Homo sapiens: one gene and its partner. The protein of the gene in region 2 purifies or fractionates together with the protein of the main gene of each other region. This does not show direct contact. Each region holds a gene or a part of one and is shown on either strand. Other genes may lie near its edges.

The links. Proteins that work in one complex are often made in the same cells at the same time.
Region 1: the proteins of SRFBP1 (region 2) and ZNF346 purify together in Homo sapiens (co-immunoprecipitation; one large-scale study listed by IntAct). This does not show direct contact.

Annotation. Positions count from the first base shown.
Region 1 is NC_000005.10:177,039,696-177,043,195, reverse strand, and holds part of ZNF346 (zinc finger protein 346), read right to left. Parts: intron 2,071-3,500; coding exon 1,967-2,070; intron 1,419-1,966; coding exon 1,326-1,418; intron 1-1,325.
Region 2 is NC_000005.10:122,013,975-122,017,474, reverse strand, and holds part of SRFBP1 (serum response factor-binding protein 1), read right to left. Parts: intron 1-3,500. UniProt on the Homo sapiens protein: May be involved in regulating transcriptional activation of cardiac genes during the aging process. May play a role in biosynthesis and/or processing of SLC2A4 in adipose cells.

The DNA.
Region 1 (3,500 bases), about 55 Mb from region 2:
GAGACCCTGTCTCTACGAAAAATTTTTTAAAAAATCAGCCAGGCGGCTGGGCGCAGTGGCTCACACTTGTAATCCCAGCACTTTGGGAGGCTGAGGCAGGCAGATCACTTGAGATCAGAGGTTTGAGACCAGCCTGGCCAACCTGGTGAAACCCTATCTCTACTAAAAATACAAAAATTAGCTGGGTGTGGTGGCGCGTGCCTGTAGTCCCAGCTACTTCAGAGGCTGAGGCAGGGGAATCGCCTGAACCCAGGAGGTGGAGGTTGCAGTGAGCTGAGATCGTGCCACTGCACTCCAGTTAGCCAGGCGTGGTGGTGTGTGCCTGTAGTCCTAGCTACTTGGGAGGTTGAAGTGGGAGGATCACTTGAGCTTGGGAGGTTGAGGCTGCAGTGAGCCGTGACTGCACCACTGCACTCCAGCCTGGGTAACAGAGCCAGGTCCTGTCTCACAAATAGACAGATAGAGAAATAGAAAGGAGGGAAACCAGGGATAAATAAATAAATAATAAGGGAAACCAGGGGATGAGTCCAGTAAATTTTGAGAAGAGATAAACAAGGACCTTCCTGACCTGTGGCTACTATAATAGGAGGTAGCAGTCTATAGAGTAAACTCTTATTTATTGAGCATCTACTAGGAATTGAAATTTTACCTCACAATACCCTTAAGAAGTAGGCATTATCTCTACTTTATGGGGGAAGTTCACAGAGGTTAAGTGACTTGGCCAAACTCACCCGATCAGTAAGACACACAGCCAGCTTTGAGCCCTAGTCTGCTTAACTTCTCTTCCCATGATGAGATGGTACTCCTGAGGGATTGGGGGTTGCTTCAGCATAATGCTCATATTATTTCTGAGCCAAAAAGCACATGTGATCACCTCTCAATCACAGCAGACATTTGGAAAGGTGTTCCTTCTGCTTATTTATGCAAAACATTCAAGTGCTGAACTTAGTTCTTTTCCTTGGCCCTCAAGAAAGCAAGCAGCCTGGCTTCTTTCCATTTTCTCTTGTCTTGCTCTAACAAACCACTAGGCGGTAATATGTAATACCAGCTCCATTACTGAGTCCCTACTATGTGCCAGGCTCTGAATTGGGTGCTTTTTATAAATCTGCCCTCAATTTTAGTTCTAAAAAATCCTGAAAGGTAGTTGATATTACCATCCTCATTTTTATAGAGGAAGAAATCAAGGCTTTGTGAAGTAATAGACTTGCCCGAGTCACACAACAGGGCCAGGATTTGAAGCCAAGACAGTCTGACTTGTTCACCACACCAACCTGCTGGCTGGCTTCATCATGAAGCAAGTGGGCTCAATATGGCAGCTGTATTACCTGATCTGAGTCTAGCTTCTTCGTTTCCCCCTTTAATGTCTCCATTCCATGGATTGCTAGGTATCTCTTCACTTTGTTGGCATGTTTTTTGCTCTGCAAAAACCCAGGAGAAAGATCAAAGATAGCCAAATGCTACTTCATACTTAAGGCACTCAAAAACACTTATGAGATTTTCATCTGATTCATCCTCACAAAAAGTTTTGAGGAGGAGGTGAGGGAAGTTTGAGTTCCTGCTCTGTGCAAGGCATTTTACAGCTACCAAATTTAATCTTCACAATCTATGAGAAAATTATGACCATTTCTATTTTATGGATGAGGAAACTACATCTAAAAATGATGAAGTTTCTTGCTCAAGATGAGTAGCAGAGTTTTGATTTAAAGTCAGATCTATTTAAAGCCAAAGCTCATACTTTATGCTATGCCAAGCTGCAAGGGAAGATACACATATAATGATCCTGATTTGGATGGGGGAGATGAGACTCAAGGAGATTAAGTCAATCTTCAAGTCACAAGCCAACATGCATGGAGGCAACATCTGGGTGGCTAAGCAGCAATTACACTTCACCATGCAAGCCAGAGAGAATTAGTGGTTTGGCACCAGGTCTGAAAAGAAACGCAGTTCTAAAAGTATGATGGCATACCTGGTAATGTGCCAGCTTCTGGGACTCAGAAATAAGCAAGGCGCAGCAAACCTTACACTGGGTGTTGGTGAAGAGACATTGGTTCTTCTGGATCATGTGCTCCACTATAGAGGGGAAAACAAGAAATCATTGAGTTGACAAACACTACCTCAACAGCACTGCCTTTGAACCCTGCCTCAAACACAGGCACTGAATGATGGGATGCCATACTAGGACACTGGCAGACCTCAGCCAGCCTTTCCTACTGCCACCGTGACTCATGCTGTGTTCTCACACCACCTACACTATTACTTATTTTATAATTTTATGTATGCCAACTTTCTTTACTTAGGAACTTCTTTTAAAAAGGAATCTTTAGATCATAAACTTAAGCAGATACCAATAAAAATAAATATGATAAAAATGAGGCTTGGAGCATTCCCCAGGAAGAAGAGAACAGCAACTGTGCTGAGAGGTTTTAAGATATGGTAGCACCCAACTGAAACTTCTTCCCAGATAGAATCAGGAGGACTGAAAGACTCGAAAAAGGAATACTTTTCTCATTGTTCTTGATCTGACTTTGAAACATTTAAAATCACATAACAGGGTGGGGCGTGGTGGCTCACGCCTGTAATCCTAGCACTTTGGGAGGCCGAGGTGGGCAGATCACCTGAGATCAGGAGTTCGAGACCAGCCTGGCCAACATGGTGAAACCCTGTCTCTACTAAAAATACAAAAATTAGCCAGGTGTGGTGGCAGGCACCTATAATCCCAGCTACTCGGGAGGCTGAGGCAGGAGAATTGTTTGAACCCAGGAGGCAGAGGTTGTAGTGAGCTGAGGTTGTGCCACTAACTCCAACTTGGGTGACAGAGCTAGACTCTGTCTCTAAATAAATAAATAAAATAAAATCACATAACGTATTATATAAGTGCCACACTATATGAAACATGGTATTAACCTGTGCTTAAATTATTGTGCCTGGAGAACAGTCTTACCTTTTTGAGAAGAGAAGAGGAGGTAAAATCTCTCCCAAGGCATAAGTTCATTTTTGTTTGTTTTTTTTTTTTTTGAGAGGGAGTCTCGCTCTGTCACCCAGGCTGGAGTGCAGTGGCATGATGTCGGCTCACTGCAAGCTCCGCCTCCCAAGTTCACACCATTCTCCTGCCTCAGCCTCCCGAGTAGTTGGGATTACAGGCACCCACCACCACGCCCAACTAATTTTTTTGTATTTTTAGTAGAGACGGGGTTTCATCGTGTTAGCCAGGATGGTCTCGATCTCCTGACCTCGTGATCCACCCACCTTGGCCTTCCAAAGTGCTGGGATTACAGGCGTGAGCCACCGCGCCCGGCCAAGGCATGAGTTCTATCATGGCGCTGGCAATGTGAGGCAGAGGCAGAGGCAGAGTCTAAAACTGGGAGAGGAGGGCAGGCCCACATTTTTAATCTCCTGGTCTCAGCCAAAAAGTGGTCAAGGCTAGGCACAGTGGCTCACACCTGTAATCCCAGCATTTTGGGAGGCTGAGGTGGGAGGATGGGTTGAGCCCAGGAGTTTGA
Region 2 (3,500 bases):
TAAGACTGGTTTCCTTATAAGGAGAAGAATATTTTGATATAGGGGCACAGAGAGACACAGTAAAGACTACGTGAACACTAAGGGCAAAGATTGGAGTTATCCTGGCATCAGCCACCAGTAGCTCAAAGACACAGGAAAGTTTCCCCTCTGGAGCTTCCAGAGAAAGTGTGGCCTCACTGACACCTTAATTTCAAGCTTTCACCCTCCTCAACTGTGAGAAAATAAATTTACTTTTTTGTTGTTGTTGTTGGGAGTCTCACTCTGTCACCCAGGCTGGAGTTGCAGTAGCGTGATCTTGGCTTACTGCAACCTCCGCCTCCCGGGTTCAAGCGATTCTCCTGTCTCAGCCTCCCGAGTAGCTGGGACTACAGGCACCCGCCACCACGCTCAGCTGATTTTTGTATTTTTAGTAGAGATGGGGTTTCACCACGTTGGCCAGGCTGGTGTCGAACTCCTGACCTTGTGATCCACCTGCCTCGGCCTCCCAAAGTGCTGGGATTACAGGTGTGAGCCACCGCGCCTGGCCAATTTACATAGTTTTAAACCACTCAATTTGTGATACTTTGTTATGGCAGCCTTAGGAAACTGATACGCATCTATTCTGACTATTAGACACAGCTTCTGTTCAACCTTTTCCAAGAAATGTCGTCTACTCATGGACCATTCATTTAAGTACAGCGCAAAGTGAACCTGTTTCTTCAACCTGCTGCTGAGTTTCCTGATACAATAGAGGAAAGATAGAAAAAAGATAATTTAGGAAGGAAGGTTATTGCTAGTATCCTGAGTCACTTAGTGACAAGCTGAGCTGCTGAAGGCATAGGTCAAACATGCTTGCTTGAGTATTAAAAGCTAGAATATAGAAACTCCAATGAAAAACATGATTTTTCAGGCTAAGAAGACTGAAAACAATATATGAAAATAGTCACATTAGTATATTGGGACCTACAAGATTTCAGATAATAAAACAAGTCACCAAATAATAAACTAAAAAGAAAAGACGCACAGATCACAATGGTTTCAGACTTTAATTCTGGAAGTCAAACTATAGAGCAGCTAATGCTTCTAAAATTATGAAGGAAAAGAATTTCCAACCTAGGGAAGAAGAAAAATACTTCCACACATGCAGTTTATTCAAAAAAATTTACATCCTTGTACATTTCTGTCCAAGAAGCTACTGGCTCCCCTAAAATGAGGAAGGATACAAATAATAAGAATGGCATAGGAGACAAGAAACAGAAGACTTAGGCAGAAGGAACTTCCCAGGATGATGGTGACAGGAGACTTAGGTTTGGGATACTTGGTGTGCTGAATATCTGGAGAGGACATATCAATAGCAGATGGAGAGTTTGGTGTTACACTACAGATAAGACAGAAAACTAACAAAATAAACCTATCACAAACTGTAGAAAACAGAAATATTATGCAGAAAAGTAGTAATAACTCAGTACATGACTCACAGTCACAATAACATAATCAATAAATGTTCACCTAATCTGATTCAAGTATATAAGGAGGATGAAGGGGGGATATCAGGAGATAAGTATATGAGGAGGATGGAGGGGATATATGACTTAGAGCCTGAAGGAGAAAAGAGATCTAAATCTTTACCTACCACAACATAAAGTTAATAGCTAGTGCTTAAAATAAAAAAGCTAATACAGTACATAAACATCTTACTGTAGGGGTAAACTCTATGCGAACTAACTGCAATTGAAGCAGGAAAGGAATAATAGAGTACTGCCACTTTTATAAAAAAATTCTTGTAGAAGTATTTGATTTTCAAAACCAGGAATTGGCAAACTGGCCCATGGGGGCTGTTCCAGCCTGCCGCTGGAACTTTCTTTTATTTAATAAAGTTTTATGGAACAAAGCCAAAGTCATTCATTTATATATTGCCTATGTCTGCACTCACGACACAATGGTAAAGCGAAGTAGTTGTGACAGAAGCTGTGTGTCTTACAAAGGCATTCATTTCAGGTCCTTTACAGAAAAAGCGTGATGCCTGCTCTAAATTACATGCAAGTAGAATCCTTGGTGGGGCAGAACTAAAAAATCAGGAAGAAAGAAAAAACTGTGTAGTAGGCCCGTGATGTTTAAAAATTTAAAATAAAAATACTACCATGACAGACTTCTGTTGCCAAATTAAAGCAACAGATTATAGCAGTAAGTGTGCTTCCAGATTGGTAACACAATTTGAGATTCTGTCTTGGTAGAAACAATTTGGTATCCAATGAAGAAGCAGTATATTTTAATCCTCAGGATTAATTACAGAAGGTTGGTATGTAAAAACAATGACAACAAAAATGACTAATCCTGAGAAGTGTATTCCCCAAGAAACTGCCCTTCAGGTTATAGGAAAAAAGAAGATATTCCAGGAGCAGCTTTTTACCTTTTACTGCTTCTTTCAGCATGTTTACCTCTTATAGTTTCTAAAAATCCACTTCAAAGGTAATTCTCAATATATGAACAGATATAAAACAGACATAAGAAATTCTGGGAATCCTAACCAGATTTTGATTAAAATGTATTCAAACAATTGTTGAAAAACACATCTACTGCTGTTTCCAAATCCCTGTTTTGACAACTTGCTAAAATCTTTGCTGAACTGGGTATTTCTTTCCAGAGTTAGCTATATCTTCCCATCTTAGTTATAACAAGTTTTAGAAGAGCAGTGGTAATACTTGCATGTCTAGTGTGGACTCCGGGGTAAATGCTATTTTGTTAAGAGTCATTTTATCATTAATTTTATTTAGCAAAGCTGTTTCTCTGCCCTGGAAGATATCCCAGACTAACGCTGATTTAGTAATCTCATTTCAGTGAATTTCATTTTTTTCTGAAAGGCTCTAGAAAAAGATTTACAATTCTATAATTATGTACGAATCTCATGAATGAAGATTTTTTTAATTTTTTTTTTCTAATGTCTTCTTCTATAACTGTGTTTTTATGTTGCAATCTTTGTGGAGCACTTATTTGTGGAAGAATATCAAGTTTATATAAAATGAGACTGATTCGAAAAGGGCCACCGTGTTGCATAATCCCCGGAGAGTCACTCACATTGTAGTTGTCAAATTGGAGCTCTGCAGCCATATGTAGCAGCAGTGAGTCAAAGGAGAACATAAAAGTTTGGGTCTACAGGGTATGTAGGTATATAAAATGAGTAGTTATGTAGAATTATGTATACTACAGCTTTAGGTTCTATAATTATATGCAATTTGTGTTTCTGAATAACAGTTAATGCTATCAGCTGATAAAATGTTATAAATATATAAATATTGTTATAAAACTCTAAGATGTGTTTTCTGTTTTATTTTGACAATAATTTTAGACACTTATAGAGTACAAAGTGATATTGACACATGCATACATTGTAGAATCATCAAATCAGAGTAATTACCATATCTACCACTTTAAACATTTATCATTTCTTTGTGATGGGAACATTTTAAATCCTCTCTTTTGGCTATTTTGAAATATATTAACTGTAGTCACCTTGCTGTGCT